5 linked regions of the Homo sapiens genome follow. The protein of the gene in region 1 interacts with the protein of each later gene in a pairwise test. Each region holds a gene or a part of one and is shown in the gene's direction. Other genes may lie near its edges. The genes, in order: FLNB, MYBPC2, ATF7IP, ITGB3 and DSCAM.

What was found.
Region 2: the proteins of FLNB (region 1) and MYBPC2 interact in a two-hybrid assay, tested with the Homo sapiens proteins (one large-scale study listed by BioGRID and IntAct).
Region 3: the proteins of FLNB (region 1) and ATF7IP interact in a two-hybrid assay, tested with the Homo sapiens proteins (one large-scale study listed by IntAct).
Region 4: the proteins of FLNB (region 1) and ITGB3 interact in a two-hybrid assay, tested with the Homo sapiens proteins (one study listed by BioGRID).
Region 5: the proteins of FLNB (region 1) and DSCAM interact in a two-hybrid assay, tested with the Homo sapiens proteins (one large-scale study listed by BioGRID and IntAct).

The regions. Positions count from the first base shown.
Region 1 is NC_000003.12:58,165,068-58,169,358, forward strand, and holds part of FLNB (filamin-B), read left to right. Parts: exon of another isoform or gene 1-1,048; intron 1,049-3,372; coding exon 3,373-3,591; intron 3,592-4,291. UniProt on the Homo sapiens protein: Connects cell membrane constituents to the actin cytoskeleton. May promote orthogonal branching of actin filaments and links actin filaments to membrane glycoproteins. Anchors various transmembrane proteins to the actin cytoskeleton.
Region 2 is NC_000019.10:50,463,501-50,467,221, forward strand, and holds the end of MYBPC2 (myosin-binding protein C, fast-type), read left to right. Parts: intron 1-845; coding exon 846-1,032; intron 1,033-2,694; coding exon 2,695-2,705; 3' UTR 2,706-2,821; downstream 2,822-3,721. UniProt on the Homo sapiens protein: Thick filament-associated protein located in the crossbridge region of vertebrate striated muscle a bands. In vitro it binds MHC, F-actin and native thin filaments, and modifies the activity of actin-activated myosin ATPase.
Region 3 is NC_000012.12:14,424,380-14,428,670, forward strand, and holds part of ATF7IP (activating transcription factor 7-interacting protein 1), read left to right. Parts: coding exon 1-1,094; intron 1,095-4,291. UniProt on the Homo sapiens protein: Recruiter that couples transcriptional factors to general transcription apparatus and thereby modulates transcription regulation and chromatin formation. Can both act as an activator or a repressor depending on the context.
Region 4 is NC_000017.11:47,277,265-47,281,555, forward strand, and holds part of ITGB3 (integrin beta-3 precursor), read left to right. Parts: intron 1-2,260; exon of another isoform or gene 2,261-2,592; intron 2,593-2,704; exon of another isoform or gene 2,705-2,998; intron 2,999-4,291. UniProt on the Homo sapiens protein: Integrin alpha-V/beta-3 (ITGAV:ITGB3) is a receptor for cytotactin, fibronectin, laminin, matrix metalloproteinase-2, osteopontin, osteomodulin, prothrombin, thrombospondin, vitronectin and von Willebrand factor.
Region 5 is NC_000021.9:40,336,235-40,340,525, reverse strand, and holds part of DSCAM (cell adhesion molecule DSCAM isoform CHD2-42 precursor), read left to right. Parts: intron 1-1,110; coding exon 1,111-1,407; intron 1,408-2,149; coding exon 2,150-2,425; intron 2,426-4,291. UniProt on the Homo sapiens protein: Cell adhesion molecule that plays a role in neuronal self-avoidance. Promotes repulsion between specific neuronal processes of either the same cell or the same subtype of cells.

The DNA.
Region 1 (4,291 bases):
CTGACAAGGTACTCACCTTTGAGGGCCCAGGTGGGGTCCTCTCGGCACTTGGAGCGCGTGGCAGGCTTCAGGCCAGGCCTCACAGCAGCTGCTGGGGTCTCCCACACTGGCCAGGAAGCATCTCACCCTCCTGCTGGCTCATGCCGCTGTGCCTGGGCCCTCTCCCATTTCCTTTTGGCTGTTCGCACACCTTTTTGGGAGCTTGGGTTTCAGGCTGTGCTCTGCAAGTGCTGGACGCTGCTGAGAGAAGGAGTTGCTCTTGCAGGGAAGCTCCTAGCCAGGAGGGGAGAGGTACAGAACCGCCTGCTTCAAACCCTGTGTAAATATTGCTCTTGTCACAGGGAAGGCGCCTTGTTTTTCCAGCCCTCCTGCTCCCAAGCCTTTCCCTAAATATCCATTCTGAGATTACACAGCTGCAGTGTGCATGGAATGAAAAGGTATCTGTGCTTGGCCGCCAGAGCGCCCAGTATCCTGACCTTCTGAACAAAGCAAACCTCCCTCTGTTTTTAATGGGTGAGTTTGCTGTATCTCTTGGCTCAAGCTTTAAATGGTCCATTCTGTAGATTTTGGAGTAGGGGAATGTGGAGAATTTGGGGCGGGACCCTGCTGGAGGCGGCTTGAGAGGCTGGGAGATAGACCAGGGAGCTCCAGATTCTTTGGAGCCGCTGAGCAATTTTCCTAATGAAATGGTCCAGGAACCCCAGTGTGCTCGGGGTATACCAGAAGGGCCTCCTTCCTTAACTGCCTTGAAGAACAAGCAGTGCTGCGTTTAACATGCATTAAACTCACAGGAACTGAGCTGGACATATTTGAGGGGGTGGGGGAAGACCGCCACGCCCAGAGATGTTTTGTGGTGTCAGATACAGGTTATAGCTAGAGGCAGTGGTGAGAGACTTCTGCTTGTGGATTTTTTTCCTTCCATCTTCTCTCAGGTAAGTGCTTTAGCTCCAAGTTGGACAGACTTTATGTTTAAATCCCAGTTCTGCTGGTCCCCAGCTGTGTGACTCCAGATGAATTATCTGACTTCACTGTGCCTCTGCTTCCTTTCCTGTAAAACAGGATTAATAACAGGACCCACCTAATAGGCTTGTTTGGAGCTGTAGAGGAGGTAACAGCCAAGTAGTAGCTCTTGTCCCATAACCCCTGCTTTCTCTTTTCCCACCTCGTCTTCCCTGCCCTTTTGGGCCCTCACAGTCAAGATGAACTGATTTTTGGTTGGTCAAAATATTGCATTAGGGCCAAATGGGTGCGGTGGCTCATGCCTGTAATCAAAGCACTTTGGAAGGCCAAGGCAGAAAGATTGTTTGAGGCCAAGAGTTTGAGACCAGCCTGGGTGACATAGTAAAACTCCATCTCTACCAAAAAAAAAAATTTTTAAAGACGAACTTAGGAATGAAACAGCTTGTTAAAAAATGGTGGAACTTTCCCCTGCAGCCACATCATTTCAACTTCACTTTAAAAATATCTTTTTGGCCTGGCACAGTGGCTCACACCTGTAATCCCAGCACTTTGGGAGGTGGAGGTGGGAGGATCACTTGAGCCTAGGAGTTTGAGACCAGCCCAGGCAACACAGCAAAACCCCATCTCTACAAAAAAATTTAAAAATTAGCCAGGCGTGGTGGTGCATGCCTGAAGTCCCAGCTACTTTGGAGGCTGAGGCAGGAGGATGGCTTGAGCCTGGAAGATTGACGCTGTGGTGAGCTGTGATCATGCCACCGTACTCCAGCCTGGGCAACAGAGGAAGACTTTATCTAAAAAAAAAAATATTAGTAATAAGGCCGGGTGCGTTGGCTCATGCCTGTAATCCTAGCACTTTGGGAGACCAAGGTGGGCAGATCACTTGAGGTCAGGAGCTCAAGACCAGCCTGGCCAACATGGTGAGACCCCATCTCTACTAAAGAAATACAAAAATTAGCTGGGCATGGTGGCGAGTGCCTGTAATCCCAGCTAATCAGGAAGCTGAAGCAGGAGAATCGCTTGAACCTGGGAGGCGGAGGTTGCAATAAGCCAAGATCATGGTACTGCACTCCAGCCTGGGCAACAGAGCGAGACTCTATCTCAATCAATCAATCAATAAAATATCTTTCCTTATCATCACCTTACAGCTGCTTCCTGGATGGACACACTGTCTCCTTGTTGCTCACCTCCCGCTTCTTCCCTACGTAGCCCCAGGCCTCAGAGCTGCTGCTTGAGGGGCTTCTTGGCTGCACAGATTAGATACCATGATGAGGTTGAGATAGTGTTGGGGGTGGACCTTGGGGCAGGAGCCTCAAGAGCTTCCAGGAACAGCTGGGTTGTGTTTGAGAGTTGCACGATAGCAGCTCTTTTGTTTTTATTGATATCCAGAACAATAATTCTTTCTCTGGACTAGGAGCTATAATTAAACCAAAATATTTCCCAGCTGGGGCAGTGTCTAGGGCTCTGGCAGAAGCATAGCCCTGCATGGGGATGCTATGCCAGGCATGCCCCATAGAGGGCACTGTAGCAGGCATGCGCCAGACCTGATGACTGAAGGAGGCTCTCCCTGGGCCAGCTAAGTTGTCTCAGGGCTGCAGTTAGGGGATCTGAGGCAGCTCCACTGCCCATCCAGGGGTCAAGAGATGAGCCTGGCACCAGAGCCATGCAGACATGGTTCAAACCCGGCTCTACCACTTTCTGGTTGTGTAGCGTGACTGGCCCCCTCCCTGAGCCGCAGAGTCATTTGTGAAGCAGGAATCACGGAAAGGATTCCATACCACATGCGTAAATGGTGCTGTGCACAGGACCTGGAGCCGGAGTGGGGTACGCATGCCCCGTCAGCGGGAGCTGCTGTTCTGTTCCTGTGCTTGTTGCTGGAATTCACGGCAAAGTGGGTGGGCTGGCAGGTCACAGTGGCTGCACCCGGTCTGCAGCACAGTGCCTGGGGTGAGGGCTGAGGAGGAAGGGAGGAGATGCTTGGCCTCCCTGGCTTCTCCAAGTCTACCCGGAGAAGAAAGGACAGTCAGAGGGGCCCACGCCTCCCCCACACCCCTGGAGGGAGAGCTGGACTCTGGTGGCTGAAGCAGCACTTCAGGCTCACAGTGTGACTCAGGCTTCTTGCCCTCAGCCACAATGGCTCATGCCCAGAGGAGAGAACAGGGTGTCCAGGCTGTTGGTGCTTGTGGGCGAAATGTCAGCCATGCTCCTCCTGCCTTGGCCTAGAAAAGGGAGCCCCCACCCCGCAGGGCCTGAGGTTCTCTCTGCCAGAAGTTCAGAGCTAGTGCCAGTGGGTTCCCATGCCACCAGGGTGAGCCCTCTGTAAGGGGATCTATGTGTGTCCCTCACCACGGCCTCAGTGCTCCCAGGAAAGCCCTCCAAGTCATCAACACAGCATTTTCTATTCCTTTCTCCCAGGTATCCAGTCGGAATTCTTTATTAACACCACCCGAGCAGGTCCAGGGACATTATCCGTCACCATCGAAGGCCCATCCAAGGTTAAAATGGATTGCCAGGAAACACCTGAAGGGTACAAAGTCATGTACACCCCCATGGCTCCTGGTAACTACCTGATCAGCGTCAAATACGGTGGGCCCAACCACATCGTGGGCAGTCCCTTCAAGGCCAAGGTGACAGGTAACGAACAACCACCTTCGGAGTTACTCTCCCTTCCTGGGGAGCTGGTTGTGTCAGATCAATCATAGTGGAAACTATGGATGGTTTTAGATGTGTTAAAGCTACTTTGAACTTTGAATGTCAGTAAATAGTATGAGATGTCAGAGGGCAGTGTTTGAAACTTACAAAAGTCCACAGAGTGGAGCCGTGCAGAAGTTGAGAAAGCATGTTAGGATGTTAGGTGGTTTTCTATCTCTAACAGGAAAGAATACATATTGAAATCTTACGTATTTGTTTAGATCAGGGTCTGAAAAATCCCCTGATTTCTAATTTTCACTTGAAAAATAATCAAAAAGTTTTCCTATACTTATAAAAATGTGTCTCCTCCAAAACACTGGAAAAAATACCAAACTATGAAAACCACTTCACAGCCACCACCCAAGGTAACCACCATAAACACTGTAGTAAATCCCTTCCACACGTCATGATTCACTGTTACATAAAGAATGTAGGTTCATCGCAGGAAAATTAGAAAATTCAGATAGAAAAATCATCCTTTCTCATCCACAGAATCATTTTTTGATATTTCATTATATGTCATCCCAAACTTTTACACTGCTTATACATAGACTATTTTATGTCAATAGAAAGATGTGAATTCCACAGGCACATCTTTGGTGGGTAGGGGGTGGGGGGATTGGGAGGGTCCTTGGCCTTGTCA
Region 2 (3,721 bases), on another chromosome or scaffold:
TGCTCTCATTCATTTATTCACTCCATTTATTCTTACAACAAACATTTTCAGAGGCTTTCAATGACCTGGGTGATTCGAACAAGAAATTTCCTGTATGTTGGGGGAGACTGACATTTGCCCAGAGTCACATAAATAATATAAAATTATGAAGGGCTGGGCCAGACACGGTGGCTCACACCTGTAATCCCAGCACTTTGGGAGGCCGAGGCGGGCAGATCACCTGAGGTCAGGAGTTTGAGACCAGCCTGGCCAACATGGTGAAACCCCATCTCTACTAAAAATACAAAAACTAGCCAGGCATGGTGGCAGGCGCCTCTAATCCCAACCACTTGGGAAGCTGAGGCAGGATAATTGCTTAAACCCGGGAGGTGGAGGTTACAGTGAGCCAAGATCACGCCACTGCACTCCAGCCTGGGAGACAAAGCGAGATTCTGTCTCAAAAAAAAAAAAAAAAGGGAAGGGCACTATGGAAGAGGGAACAGCCAGTGCCAGCGTCCTGAGGTGGGTGCCTGTCTGGTCTGTTTGAAGGACAGTGAGGTAGCCTGTTTGGCTGGAGCAGAGAAGTAATGGGGGTCAAAGAGTGTGGGACCCTGTGGGCCACTACAAACAGTGAGCTCTTTGTCCTGAGAGCAATGGGAAGACCCCACCGTTACCCTGTGAAGTGGGATTATCAACCTGCTTTTACATAAGAGGAGACTGAGGGTCAGGGAGAAGTGACTCGTCCAAGAACATCTGGCAAGAGGGTGGCAGAGCCTAGAACCCAGATCGGCTTCCTGAGCCCCATTTTGTCATCATTGCCCAGGGTCTCTCTCTAAGTTGGCCTCCTCTCCCTTGACTCTCAACAGCCGAAGGTGGTCTGGATGAAGAACAAGATGGAAATCCGTGAAGATCCCAAGTTCCTGATAACCAATTACCAAGGAGTCCTGACGCTGAACATCCGTCGCCCCTCGCCCTTCGACGCTGGGACTTACACCTGCCGGGCCGTCAACGAGCTGGGCGAGGCGCTGGCTGAGTGCAAGCTGGAGGTCCGAGGTGAGGGCGTGGCCATCCCCAACACTGGCTGACCCTTGCTCGGGCCCTGTGCCAGCCTGGCCGGTGGCCCCGGGCTGAGCACCGCTGAGATCTGGAGACGAGTGAGACCAGCCCTCTGGGAGGAGGACTGGGAAGCTGCTGTCCTGAAGGCAGCACAGGGCATCCTAGGAGTTGGGGTTGGGGAGCCCCTGACCCAGCTTGGGAAGGAGTCAGATTTTTCCAAAGGAGTTGAAGGACAAGGAAGAGGAAGGCTGAGTGAGAAGGGCTTAGGAAACGTCCCCAAGGCCTCCAGTGTACCTGGGCCCCCGTAGGCAGATGGGTTGACAGAGTGAGAGCAAATATGGATAACACGGATGACCAGGGGTGGCGGGAGCTCCCAAGAGTGCCTCCCTCCATAGCCTGTCCCCATGCTCCCACCCACCTGCCCCTGCCTCTCCCTGCCCCGTCCCTCATCTCGGTCCCACAGCTCCAGCCCCAGCGAAAGCTACATCCTCTTCCTCCCATATTCCATTTCCAGCCGCCTCCGTCTCCAGTCTCTCCCTCCTGCCAGCCACTTTCACCCTTGGACTCTGGCCCCAGAGAGCTCTCTCTATCCAGAGCTGCTCTGCCCCAGCCCTGATCCCAGCCCGCTGGGGACTCCCCACCGCCCCAGCGCCCCTCCGCCTGGTGTTCACGGTGGTGTGTCCACCCCGGTTCTTCCCACATGATGTCCCAGCCACACCGGGCTGTTGGCAGTTACACTGGCCAGGCTTTCCTGCCACAGGGACTTGGCACATGCTCTTCCCTCTTCCTGGAACACAATTCCCCCGCTCCTTTACCCTGGGCTCCGGCCCATCAGATGTCTGCCAGTCAAGGCTCAGCGAGGAGGCCACTAACCGTGTCCCTCAGAGCAGGATGACATCAATGTGGACTTCCAGAGTCCCTCCCGGATGGTGACTTCTGACCTCTGACTTCCCTGGCTCTGAGGACAGCCCAGCAGACAGGGTGGCTGGGGACCCTTAACAAAGGCTCAGAGAGGACACTTTCTAGCCAAGCACGGTGGCTCTCGCCTGTAATCCCAGCACATTGGGAGGCCAAGGCAGGCGAGTTGCTTGAGCCCAGGAGTTCAAGACCAGCCTGGGCAACATGGCGAAACCCTGTCTCTACTAAAAATACAAAAAAATTTAGCCGGGCCTGGTGGCACATGCCTGTTGTCCCAGCTACCTGGGGGGCTGGGGCAGGAGGATCACTTGAACCAGGGAGGCCGAGGCTGCAGTGAGCTGAGATGGCACCACTGCACTCCAGCCTGGTGCAACAGAGTGAGACTCTGTCTCAAAAACCAAACAAAAACACCCCAGATCACTGCCCTTCCAAGCCCACCCAATTTCTGATACTCTGCTGTCTCCCTGATTAACTATTAAATCAGCTCAGAAAAATCCCAGCCTCAGGATTCCAGTGACCGCGTACAGCCAGCAGCTCAGAATGTCCCCATCTGGGATCCAAAATACCAGTAATCAGGAGCACTGTGACTCTGGGTTGTCCAGCCACAGTGGCCTAGGATGGGGCGGGATGGTGACCGTCATCCTGTCCCCCTGCTGGTCATGTGGATGCAGCTCCTCCTCCTGGGGCTTCAGGAGGAGGCGTGCCCGGGCCTGGCTCACCCGCTTTCTCGTTTTCCTGCAGTGCCGCAGTGAGACCTGTCCCCTACCTGCCAAGACAATTGGTGGTGGAGTCCTGACCCCAATCCCCAACCTCCCAGGACTGTGTTCTTTCTGGAGTTTTCGCTGAGAACAAAACAGTGTTGTCTGGACCCTGGAGTGTCTGTCCTTCTTGACTCCGTAGCTCCGTCTTCCTCCTGCAGGGGATTGGTCACCCCGGGGTTGGCGACGGGAGCAGCTGCGTCGACACAGGCCGCGGTGAGGTGGCCTCTTGGAATAGCTACTTTAGCGAGGCAGCCACGTTGTCACAGCAACCACAGAGCATCAGAGGTGAACCCAAGCCCACGGGGAGGCCGGCCCCAGAGAAGCTGCTGGGAGGGAGGGAGGGTGCAGGCTAGGGGCAACGACAGTGGCAGCGAGTCAAAGACACACCCAGGCCACACCCAGAAGGCCACTCTACCGAAGCAGCTGTGTCGCTGTGGCCGCCTCTAGGCCTTGGCAGCGGCCCCAAGAGCTAGACGTGGTGAACCGAAGAGGGAGGCAGCCGTACTGGACAAACTCCTGCCAGGCAGCTGCGCGGACTTGGTGACGAAGGCGAAACCGCTCGTGGCCTGCTTGTTGGTTCTTAATGGACTGACCTTTATTAACTTTAATATCTCATCTGCCCGGCCCTGAGGCAAGGTACTTTGATCTCTGGTCATTCGGTGACCTTGAAGGATGCTGGAAGACTCAGAGTCCCCAGAGTTCAGAGGTCTTGGGGTCAAGTCTGGCTTCCACGCCTTGGGGCTGGGGAGAGAGAGTTTGTTTCAGAGGCCTTGGCCTGCAGTTAGGGAGTGAGGGGGCGGGGAGGGACTTTGCACTTACTGGAATGGCAGGGGAAGCCAGGTGTCCTAAGAGGGGGCACAGATTCCAGTGCCCCCAGCTTCTAAAACTGGCATCATCCCCTGCTCCACCTTGACCCCCAAGGCCCTACAGAGAACTGGACATTGGGCCTGGCTGACCCCACTCCTTCAGGGCACAGGTTGTCCCTCTCTAGACCCTACTCTGGTATG
Region 3 (4,291 bases), on another chromosome or scaffold:
CTCTGGTGATCCCACCTCTAGCGAGCCCTCCTCTAGTGATGCTGCCTCTGGTGATGCAACCTCTGGTGATGCCCCTTCTGGTGATGTGTCCCCTGGTGATGCCACCTCTGGTGATGCCACTGCTGATGATCTCTCCTCTGGTGATCCCACCTCTAGTGATCCCATCCCAGGTGAACCGGTCCCTGTTGAACCCATTTCTGGTGATTGTGCCGCTGATGATATAGCCTCTAGTGAAATAACTTCTGTTGATCTGGCTTCTGGAGCACCAGCTTCCACTGATCCAGCCTCTGATGATCTGGCCTCTGGTGATCTATCCTCTAGTGAACTGGCCTCTGATGATCTGGCCACTGGTGAACTGGCCTCTGATGAGCTGACTTCTGAATCAACCTTTGATCGTACCTTTGAACCAAAGTCTGTACCAGTTTGTGAACCAGTTCCTGAAATTGACAATATAGAACCAAGTAGCAATAAAGATGATGATTTTCTTGAAAAAAATGGAGCTGATGAAAAATTAGAGCAAATTCAGAGTAAAGACTCATTGGATGAGAAAAATAAAGCTGATAATAATATTGATGCTAATGAAGAAACTCTAGAAACAGATGATACAACTATTTGTTCAGATCGACCTCCTGAAAATGAAAAGAAGGTAGAGGAAGATATTATCACAGAGCTTGCTCTTGGAGAAGATGCTATATCTAGCAGTATGGAAATTGACCAAGGTGAAAAGAATGAAGATGAAACTTCTGCAGATCTTGTAGAAACGATTAATGAAAATGTTATTGAAGATAACAAAAGTGAGAATATCTTAGAAAATACAGACTCTATGGAGACAGATGAAATCATTCCTATTTTGGAAAAGCTTGCACCTTCTGAGGATGAACTTACTTGCTTTTCTAAAACATCTCTCCTTCCAATCGATGAGACAAATCCAGATTTGGAAGAGAAAATGGAAAGTTCTTTTGGTTCACCATCTAAACAAGAAAGTAGTGAGAGTTTGCCAAAAGAAGCCTTTCTGGTCCTCTCTGATGAAGAGGATATTTCGGGTGAAAAAGATGAGTCTGAAGTTATATCGCAAAATGAAACGTGCTCTCCAGGTTAGCATATAACTTAAATGTTAAAGATTTTTTATTGACTTTGATGAACTGTTTAATAAAACATTATCATAATGTTTTAAATTTATTTTAGCTGCAGAGAAAGTTGAGAATGGTGATGACTCTATAGAAAGATGTCTTAACTTCATAGAATTCAGAATTAGTGTGTGTACTCTGTGAGTAGCATTGTACTAAATACTAAGAAGGGAGATAAAATAAGTAGAAAATATGCCCTTATAGTCTGGAAATAGAGATGAAGTAGAGCACCATAACACTGAGATAACAGTTTAAGTTAGTACATAATTGACTAGAGTTGTAGCAGTTCTTTCTTGCTATCACTTAGCGAACAAATAACTTAGAACTAAAAGCCTAATAGTTTAATCTATTTGCTTCAAGTGTAACAAATTATATTTTCAATTAATATTCCCAATGAAATCCTGTTCTTTAATATTCTTTGTCCAGGAATGACAGCACCATTGTTGTAAGCCAGAAACCTTAAAGCTTGATTATCCATTTGATAAAGACTTTACCCATTTGCTCCCTCAGCCCTTTTGATTCTACCCAACCTATTCTCTTCCTCATTTTCTGAATGAGCTCCCTGTAACCCAATTCTCTTATTTGATATTGTCCGTCTATGTCTTAGATCTCTGTTACTTTTAGGTTGATTTCAAACTCCTTATGTAAAAGGTACATTAACTTTATGATTTGTTCAGTACCTATCTCTCCCATCTCTTTTATTTTATTTATTATTCCTAGAGAAAAAGAATGAGAAAAATTCTACCTTCTTTTATGGTCAAACTGAAAAACATTATTCCTCTATGAAACTTTCTAAGCCTGTGGAAGACTGAGAAAAGCATGAATACCTTTCTTTTCCCATTATATCACATTCTTTTAGATTTAGACATCTCTGAGAGAAGTGACCTTGCTAGCATAAAACACCATCTAATTTCTTCAAAGAAAAAAAAATGGAGGCAGGTCTAAGAGACAGAGACAACTTTTTTCCCCAATATATCATACCAGCTTTTGGAGGTAGAGATTTTTTTCTTATTAAAAAATGGCTTTTTTTTTTTTTTTGGCCAGGTAAGGTGGCTCACACCTATAATCCTAGGACTTTGGGAGGCTGAGGCAGGCAGATTGCTTGAGCTCAGGAGTTCGAGACCAGCCTGGGCAACATGGTGAGACCCCGTCTCTACAAAAGTACAAAAATTAGCCAGGCGTGGTGGCACTTGTCTGTAGTCCAGGGTACTTGAGGGCCTGAGGTAGGGGGATCACTTGAACCTGGGTGGTCGAGGCTGCAGTGAGCCGAGATCGCGCCACTACTCCAGCCTGGGTGACAAAGTAAGACCCTGCCTCAAAAAAAAAAAAAAAAAAAAAAAAAAAGGATGGCTTTTTATTTTCAAAGAGCATTCAACTAAACCTATATAAAGAGACAGGCCAGGCCCTTCTTGGTTCTAGAGATTTGAAGATAGTATTTGCCCTCAGGATACACACAAGAATTAAATCATAGGCCATTAAATACAAGACTGTGAGTACAGTGATAATGTTAAATTGGCATTCTGGGAGTGCAGATTAAGGTAACTTTATTAGAGCACCAGATGTATTAGGGATGTCTTGCCCCTTTTAATATCTGTATAACAGAGGTTTTTTTTGTTTGCTTGTTTTTGTTTTGTGAGACAGAGTCTTGCTCTGTTGCCCAGGCTGGAGTACAGTGGCACAATCATAGCTCACTGCAGCTTCCACTTTACTGGCTTAGGTGATCCTCCCACCTAAGCCCCCAGAGTACCTGGGAATACAGACATGTGCCACCACACTTGGCAAAATTTTAATTTTTTTGTAGAGACAGGGTCTTGCTATATTGGCTCTGCTGTAACATAGGGTTTTAATGAGTCTAATTCTTTTTTTTTTTTTCCGAGATGGAGTCTCGCTCTGTTGCCCCGGCTGGAGTGCAGTGGCACGATCTTGGCTCACTGCAACCTCCGCCTCCCGGGTTCAAGTGATTCTCCTCCCCACTCCGCCTCCTGCGTAGCTGGGATTATAGGTGCGCGACACCACGCCTGGCTAATTTTTGTATTTTTAGTAGAGTCGGGGTTTCATCATGTTGGTCAGGCTGGTCTCAAACTCCTGACCTCGTGATCCTCCTGCCTCAGCCTCCCAAAGTGCTGGGATTACAAGCGTGAGCCACCGCGTCTGGCCAAGTCTAATTCCTTTTAATGGCAGCTCCATCCTACTTGCTGAGGCCAGAAACTTTGGAACCATTTTTATTTTTTCTTTCACACCCCATAATTAGTCCATCAGGAAATTCTGTTGGTACTACTATCATAATAGATCTAGAGTCCAATTCACAACTGTTATTACTCCTGCTGCGAGTCACCATCATCAGGCCAAAACGGTGCCTGGCACACAGTAAGTGCCCAGTAAATATTTGTAAAGTGAATGAATAATCAATAATGTAAGAGAAGCATATCATGGAGGACCTTGGTTATAATGCTAAAGCTTTATGATGGCGCTGGAATGCCAATAAAGAACTTCAAGCAGAGAGGAGAATGAAATTTACATTTTGGAAAGGTAATAGGTGACAGTGTTGAGAATGAATTTCATCCATTTCCTATAAGTGTCTATACAGAGTGTGGCACTAGGCCAAGTCCATAAAAAAGCCTTATAAGTCCTTTAAAAAAAAAAAGTCTGTATAAGAAAGTTAAAAAAGCAAATTGCAGCTTATGATTTAATGAGTACCTTTATGTCAGAATCTTGATATTGGAGGGCATCCCACACAAGGCAGTTAAGTGCTGAGAGATGAATATTAAGCCATCCATGTTGCATACTTTGAAAATTCAAAGTTGGGAATATTTTTGGTTACTTGCCTTTAATCTGATGGTATGCTATTAGCAGGGTAAATTTAGTGATAGATTTAATTTCTTGGCTCATAACTAAACTTTTATTTTGTATCTTTTCCCCTTCCTCTGAAGGTAATTTTGTGTATTTTGAGTTTAAGAATAGTTTCTTAATTGGTTCTTAAACTGTACTCTGTTCTCTTTATATGGCGACAGAATCTGTTGCATGTCATTTATGTTGCTGTACTCCTGTTGAAATGTTACTTAAATAAATGCCTTTATTCTTGACTAATTTTTAATATACTCAGAACACAGAATTATTAGCTGAAGTACTAAAGTTGGCTTCAGTACTGGCTCTTCCTTCTAGCT
Region 4 (4,291 bases), on another chromosome or scaffold:
AATTGCCTGAGGTGCTTGTTAAAAATAAAGCTTCCCGGGATGGATCCTGGGTCTGTTACATCAGAATGGATATTTATGATAGCAAGTTTGGCAAACATTGCTAATTGAAGGGCCACTGGGGTTGGGTCAAGGTGGATGGAGGTGGAGTTAAGGTTGCCAGATAAATACAGAACATCCAGCCTGGTGCCTGTAGTCCCAGCTACTCAGGAGGCTGGAGTGGGAGAATCCTCTGAGCCCAGGAGTTTGAGGCAATAGTGCACCATGATCATGTCTGCTAATAGCCACTGCACTCCAGCCTGGGTAACACAGGGAGATCCTGTCTCTAAAAAATAAATCTAGATTACAGAACATCCACTTAAATTTGAATTAAAAAATAATTTTTAGTATAAGTTTGTCCCAAATATTTGCTAAATTTGGCAACCCTACAGTGGAGGGAAATACTAGGAATTCTTATATAAGCCTGAGTACACCCTGGAAGGTGGGCCAGCTTCCCACTTAGCCTGACAACCAAGGGTGACAGAGGAAGAAGGAGTTTGAGTCTAGCAAAGTAGAGGAAGACTCTAATAGGATTTCCTTCTCATTTTCTTCTCTGCAACTGCAGGAGCAAGATATAGGCCATGATTTACATTTCTTTATAATCACAAACATAATTTTATTCTGACTTGTCTTCTTTCTATTTATTTTTAATCTGGAGGACAAATGTTCATCTTGAGAGTTTTGCTCCAATTTATTATTGTAAAAGGAAGTATAATATTAAGAGTGCTCCTCTTCTTGTAAACAATGAAATGTGAATACCAACAACTATAAACAAAAATGCTTCATGTTCCTCCCCTCCTCCTTTCTGCCCTCTTCATTCTTTTCTCTTTGCATGTTCAAGTGATTTCTTGTCCTCACCAGATGAGTTAATCAAGACAGCAATGGATGGGAGATGTTTTGGTGGTGCTCTGGGGTAAAAAAAGTACTGGGGCATATTGACTCTCGCTCTCCAAGAAGAGTATGAAATAATAGTAGTTATTGTGGTAACTGTAAAAAAGAGTCACCTGCCAGGTGTGGTGGCTCACTCCTGTAATCCCAGCAGGGCCAAAGTGGGCAGATCACTTGAGGTCAGGAGTTTGAAACCAGCCTGACCAACATGGCAAAACCCCGTCTCTACTAAAAATACAAAATTAGCTGGGCGTGGTGGCGCAGGCCTGTAACCCCAGCTACTAGGGAGGCTGAGGCAGGAGAATTGCTTGAATCCGGGAGGTGGAGGTTGCAGTGAGCCAAGATCGTGCCATTGCACTACTCTAGCCTGGGCAACAAGAGCGAAACTCCATCTAAAAAAAAAAAAAGAGTCACTTATATTTGCATTTATTTGCTTATACTGTGTCCTAAAGCAGGGGCTCCAATTCCTAGTCCATGGCCTGTTAGGAACTGGGCCGCACAGCAGGAGGTCAGCAGCAGGTGAGTGAGCATTACCGCCTGAGCTCCACCTTCTGTCAGATCCGTGGTGGCATTAGATTCTCACAGGAGCTCAAACCCTACTGTGAACTGGGCATGGGAGGGATCCAGGTTGTTCACTCCTTATGAGGATCAAACTAATGCCTGATGATCTGGGGTGGAACAGTTTCATTCTGAAACCATCCCCACCTCCCTGTCCATGGAAAAATTGTCTTCCCTGAAACCAGTCCCTGGTGCCTAAAAGGTTGGGAACCTCTGTCCTAATGGATTTCAGTATAGTTAACTTATGTTGAGATTTTTATATTTTGAAAGCATTTCACATTCACAGTCTTCTTTTACTTCCTGACCAACCCTGTGAAATAGGCAGGATAATGACAACTATTCATGTTGTACTTTCCCAATTTCCAAAATGGGATTAATGGAGAATGGTACCAAGAGCGTGTGTCACCCTCCCAGGAGAGGGAGGTAATTCAGCCAGCTCGCAGGGCGCTGGCTGGAACCTCCCACCTCTGTGCTCAGGCCCTTCCCCTGGGTCTTGGCTATTTTTGCCCTTTTTGTGTAACATCCGGTTTCCCTGGGAACTGAAACTTTAATATCCACCCCTCCCCCTTCTAGCTTTCTTCCTGCATAACCTGGAGACATTCTTTCTACCTTCTCAGCCTGGGTTACCAAGAAAGGGAATGTTGCCCAAGTATGTTGAGGTCACTGCCTTGGTGCTCTTCTGGAACAGAGGGCTCTCGTGGAGAGCTTGGCTGACGAGCAGGCCTGTTATATTCCTGACCTCTGATGTCAGCAACCACAAAGGGAGGGAGGGAGGCAGTTTTGTTTTTCAGTGTTTAATTTTTCTAAGGAAACTCATAACAAACCATTAGGACTGTCAGCACATCTTAGCGCTTCAAACCCTCTTCTCATTAGGACTGCCACATTAGAAAATAGGAGTCAGGAAACTCCCGTCTAATGCATTCTCTCCCTCTGCTGATGGAGCCTGAAGATGCATGAAGGCCTTGCTGCTCTCATCCAGTTTGCTGGGCTCCGGTCCCTGCTGTCTTCTTCAGCATCTGTCTTGGTCCTGGAAAGGATCCGCTCCTCACTGCATTCTGATTTATCCACTGCCTTTTTGGGAAGGTTTTCTCCCTGGGGCTTTGTGGGCAGCTAGAATCAGAGATAGGATTGGGGCTTTTTTGAGCAAGAGAAAGACTGCTTCCAGAGGAGGAAGGGGTAGGAGAGGTGGGCAGGGACAACAGGAGGAGTCTGGGCACAAAACCTGAAGTGCCCAAGTTCTCCCCAGGTCATTCCGTCCTCAGCCAGAGCTGGGTGCACGGGAGACTTTCATCTTCCTCAGAGTTGTGGAAGGTCTGTGATGTCCCTGTTGGAGTATTTGCCACCAGGAAGGTTAAGTCTTATTCATTGATTTCCATCGCCGAGGCTGGTTCCCTGCCTGCATACCTGTGAAGATGAGAGAGAAAGAGAGAAGCTGCTGGCTTCCAGAAACTCTACTTACTTCTTGCCTGGGCCAGGGTAGTCCTCATGCTGTTGATGTTGCTCGTGTCCCCATCCACGTGGGGAAGGCTTCAGCCCATGAAAGGGGGATCGGACTGGAGAGGGAGAGAGACTTTAAGCATTGGGAAGGGTTTTGGGTTACAGGGTTTTTTTGTTTTTGTTTTTGTTTTGAGGTGGGGTCTCACTCTGTCACCCAGACTGGGGTGCAGTGGTGTGATCTTGGCTCACTGCAACCTCCGCCTCCCTGGCTCAAGTGATCCTCCCACTTCAGCCTCCTGAGTAGCTGAGATTCCAGGTGTGCACTACCATGCCCAGATAATTTTTGTATTTTTAGTGGAGACGGGGTTTTGCCCTGTGGCCCAGGGTGGTCCGGAACTCCTGAGCTCAAGTTATCCACCCGTGTCGGCCTCCCACAGTGCTGGGATTACAGGCATGAGTCATCGCACCCGGCCGGTTACAGGGCTTTTGAGTATGAATGGCTCCTTGTGGCCCAGTCCCTCTTCTGGCATTATGGCTGCCAGGTTGCTTGAGGGGGCTGAGGAGGCAGATGTCATCCATCCTTCTCCATCCCTCGCACATGCCCACCTTGCATCCTGTTCCCTACCTGGGGCATTCTCTGTTGTGGCTCCTCCCTAGGACCATTCCTTCCACACTTTTCCTTTTCCGTGCCTTGACTCTCACTCTATACGGAATGTAGTAAAGCTTATTTTATGATGATAATTACAGTCAGACAATCTAGCTGGCCTCTCAGTTCTGCCACTTCCTAGCTCTGCAACTTTGAGCAAATTCCTTAATTTATCCAAGCCTCAGATTCCTTACCTGTAAGATTGGGTTCCTTATTTGTGAAGCCTCCAAACCTTAGGTTTCTCCCTTGTAAAATTATAATAGTTCCAGCATTATGGAACTGTCAGGCATATTGCAATAATCCATGTAAAGTGCTCACCACAGTGCCTGACATACAGTAAGTGTTCAATAAATGTCAACACTAGTTGTTCTGGGATATTGGTGTGGGTTATCCAGCAGACATTTGGAAGTGCTGGTTGGGGATGTGGGTAGGGGTGGGGTTGAGGAGAGCCCGAAGGCCTAGACATTGTGAAATAGGTCCCGGGAGGGGTTTTCCAGCTTCCTGGCTGGTCCCCTCAACTTGGTAAGGAGCCCTCATAGACATGCACCCACACAGTGTTGGCTAAATTGGCTGAATGTCAGAGCCGGAAGGGACTGAAAACACTGTGTCATCTAAAGGCCTTGTTGAACAGGTGAGGACACAAAATGACGTATCTGAGGTCACATGACTAGTCAGTGGCAGGCCTAGGATTGATCTTCTTTCCTGATTTTCAGTGTTCTTTCCAGG
Region 5 (4,291 bases), on another chromosome or scaffold:
TGTGTCACAGTGTTGATTTGTATGCCTGAGGCTGGCTGACCTATTGGTAACTTTTCTTCTGATTTTCATACATTTCCTTTAATATGCATGTATTTCTTTTTATAAATGGAAAAACATATATAAAAGAAACATGCATTTGTAACTATTACTATATAAGAGAAAAAACCATATGGATGATAGAAAAATAATGGAATATGAAAATTTGATCTATGTAAACATACTGAAAATTTCTATGGAGACTTCTCTAAGATTAAGATCCTAGTTTGCCTGCGATAGTTCTGGGTCATGCCTGTTCTCTTGGCATAATTATTAGTCCTTTCTGTTTCAGCCTCAAAAGTGTCCCAGGTTGGATGTTAAATTATATGGCCAGCCTACTTAAGATACTTTTAGAGAGATTTAAAACATGCTTAAGTACCCTACTTAAGATATCTTTAGAGGTTTTTAATACACGGCATTTAATACAAACTTTATTTAGCTTCTACCCATTCTCAGAGACTTCATGGAAGTTTGCATGCAATTACTATTTGTAATTAAAGTTATTAAAAGAGGATTTCTTATGAGAAAATGATGAAGATGAGGTCATCAATCTCTCAGTAGTTTCCTTTATTCCTGTAAAGAATTCCCTAGTGAGAAAACCCCAAATAACTTGAGGAAGTATTAGGTTGGTGCAAAAGTAATTGCTGTTTTTGCCATTACTTTTTGCAATCACTTTTGCACCAACCTAACAGATAAAGTGACTGTTTGTGGGAGTGAGCGGGTGTGGATTTTCCGTCTGTTTATAACTTTGTGTGAGGAAACACCAGTTTTAAATTAAGGACTTCTTAGGAGCTGTCATTGTTTAACCTGAACATCTGAGTTGTATTACCATTCCTCTTAAGTCAATCAGGAAATATAGAAACAGTTGATGAAAGCTTGCTAACACTGTGCTTACCTGTTTTGAAAACAGTGAACTCTTGTTCTGATTAACGTTTTGCTTTATCAGGAAAACCAGACCTTTTTGGTAATGTTTAACAACTACGACATTTACCCCCTAGACATGAAAGACATATACTTGGAAGTTGTTTAATTATTTGTATGTGCCACTTTCTTCCATAATTTGTTTTCCTGCAGATGGAACTCCCAAAATTATTTCTGCCTTTAGTGAAAAGGTGGTGAGTCCAGCAGAGCCGGTTTCCCTTATGTGCAACGTGAAGGGAACACCTTTGCCCACGATCACGTGGACCCTGGACGATGACCCGATTCTCAAGGGTGGCAGTCACCGCATCAGCCAGATGATCACGTCGGAGGGGAACGTGGTCAGCTACCTGAACATCTCCAGCTCCCAGGTCCGGGACGGGGGAGTCTACCGCTGCACTGCCAACAACTCGGCGGGAGTCGTCCTGTACCAGGCTCGAATAAACGTAAGAGGTGCTTGTCAAATCAGCTCCTCAAAAAAACACACATAACTCATTATAGTGGAGAAGAAGATTTCTGCATGCACCGAGCTGGGTCTTGGAATGCCAGAGCGGATTAACTGTTGCTTCCCATTTCCTACCCTCTCCTTCCTACTCAGGAATGGCACTGACTGGGTTAATGTTGGAAATGGCATTTTGGTTTCTGTAGTCAGCTTGTTCTTTTTTACTCTAGATCTGTTCACCTGATGTTTCCTTTCCTGGTTTATGCTCTGCATGCCCTTTCCCTTCTCCTTCTCTTCGGTTCTTCCACATTCATGGTAAACCTTCATGTACATGGTATTAAACTTACATTCATGCTGCAACGTGATGTAACCTCCATTGTCGTCCTAGATTTTACAGAGAGAGTTAAACAATTGATCAATTGCTGCCAGTGTGTTCACCAAAAGTGCGTGATTGTCCAGTATAGACTAGTTACTTTCTATTAATTAAATTGCCTTTTATCTTGTAATTTTTAATTCAAAACATTTTCATAGAAGTAGCAGATAAAGTGTTTCACAGTTATACATTTGAATTTAAGAAAAGGAAAGAAAAACCTTTGTTGTAGAAAATGCCACATGCAAAAATATTTGTTTAACTGAAAAAGATGTGCTTACATGAATATAATCTACATTTTTAACTCAAGGAAAAGTGTACCCATTTCCCTACATGAGATGTACCCTTAAATTATTTTCAAGAGTTTCTTTGTGTCTCTCCAGGGCCTGCAAGCATTCGACCAATGAAAAACATCACAGCAATAGCAGGACGGGACACATACATTCACTGTCGTGTGATTGGCTATCCGTATTACTCCATTAAATGGTACAAGAACTCTAACCTGCTTCCTTTCAACCACCGCCAAGTGGCATTTGAGAACAATGGAACTCTTAAACTTTCAGATGTGCAAAAGGAAGTGGACGAGGGGGAGTACACGTGCAACGTGTTGGTTCAACCACAACTCTCCACCAGCCAGAGCGTCCACGTGACCGTGAAAGGTAAGCCCTGTTCTCCTGGTTCCCACACAACTCATTCCATAGCCCGACTACTTCCCAGACCAATGATTTGAAGTCGGGTAATCCAAGATCTGCTTATTTAGAGCAGGATAATTGTACAGGCTGAAGAATGACAGGGAACATGAGATGTCCTCTTTACTACTGACTGAATCTTCACAGGAACTTTAGTTGATCTGATTTTCTCTCCAGGTGGAATTTTGGCTTGGTTTTCCAGAGGGCATGTGTTGTTAACAATACAACAGAAAAAAAAGGAGCACATCATTAGCTTCATTATCTAGTCATCTCTCAGATAATTTTTAAATAAATAACCTTCTTTTCCTAAAACCTCCTAAAAGCAAGGTCTCTTAGAACTTCACTGGAAGGGATTTTCTGTATTGGATGAGGATTTCAAACAAACGTCTTATCTTCTGTAGATGAGCAGGTCAAAGCAACAACATAGAAATTATATGTTTAAAGGATGCCACAGAACGTTTTCCTCATTAAATTATTCTTTGCATCATGACATGGACTGTCATGGAATCTACCTGTCAGGATGATCTTTAGAGATCCTGCAATTTGAATTGACTACAATCTCCTTACCAGAAAAAAACAATAAGGTGATCAGACTCATCCAAGGATACGCAGACTTTTAGTGGCAGAGCCTCAGAAAGACTCATTTCTTCTATTCTACAAGTCAGTTTCCTGAGCTGAATATGAAATAAAATTGTTTTAATTATGTAAGGAATCTACCTGAGGTGGGTCCTAGGAATAGAACTAATATGTTATAAAACTATTTCCGAAACCTGTGGGTGTTGCTTCTAGCCACATTGAGCTGCCTGTCTGAGGTGTCCAAGTTCTCTCTCCAGGAACCAATAAGTGGCTTTTAGTTGCCCTTGTTACAAAGTTGCATAGGTTTCCTGTGGTCTTCCCCAAGCTTCTTTTCCCACCAACCCTGTGAGTTTTACTTTTGTGAGAACGCATACAGACACACACACATGGAAATAATAATATGTGTATACTATTATTACGGGGCATATATATTGCATTACATTATATATTATAGAATATGTATTGTGCATTGTATATTAGATATGCCTGCACATAATTATAAATCGGTTTTTAATAACCATATGTCTTGAGAATTTCCTCAAATCACTAGATATTCTTGGTAAACCAGGCTGCATAAAGGTTCATTTGGTGGTTGTGTTTATTTATTTAATCCTCATTTACAGAACATCTGCTTCATGCCAGGCACTACTCTAGACACTGAGGAATACAACAATGAAAAAGGTCTGCAAGGTCCTTTCCTTCATTGACTCTCTTCTCAGTCAGGAGAGACAAACAATAAACAAATAAAACAAGTGAATAAACCAGAAAACACCTAATGGTACTCCATACTATGCAGAGAATTAAAACATGGCAGTATCTTAATGGTTCATTGCAATAGTCAGATGCCATATCAACACATTTTCTGTACTCTGTCATCTTAAAATTCATTGGTCTATCATACCCTTGGAAGGAATGTTTTACCCACACATGATTTTGTAACATAAAAAGTTGATCATTTGGAAATGATTGGTTCACTGTGTTACACAGATCTTCCAAATGTTGATACAATTTGTTATACAATATCAAAATATCACAACTACTAACATTACCATGATCTCATCAGAAAGTCTTCAAGTAAACTGTCAAGTTCATGCTGATGGATGCAAGTTTTCTAAAATTCTATTCTTTCTTGAAAGATTCAATTTTATTATTTATAATAAACACCATCAATTGTAATTGTAGGAGTGATGGGCTCATTTATCTGTAAGAAATTGTTTGACAAATAGAAAAGACCGCATAACCATCGTTTTTAGGTAGCCA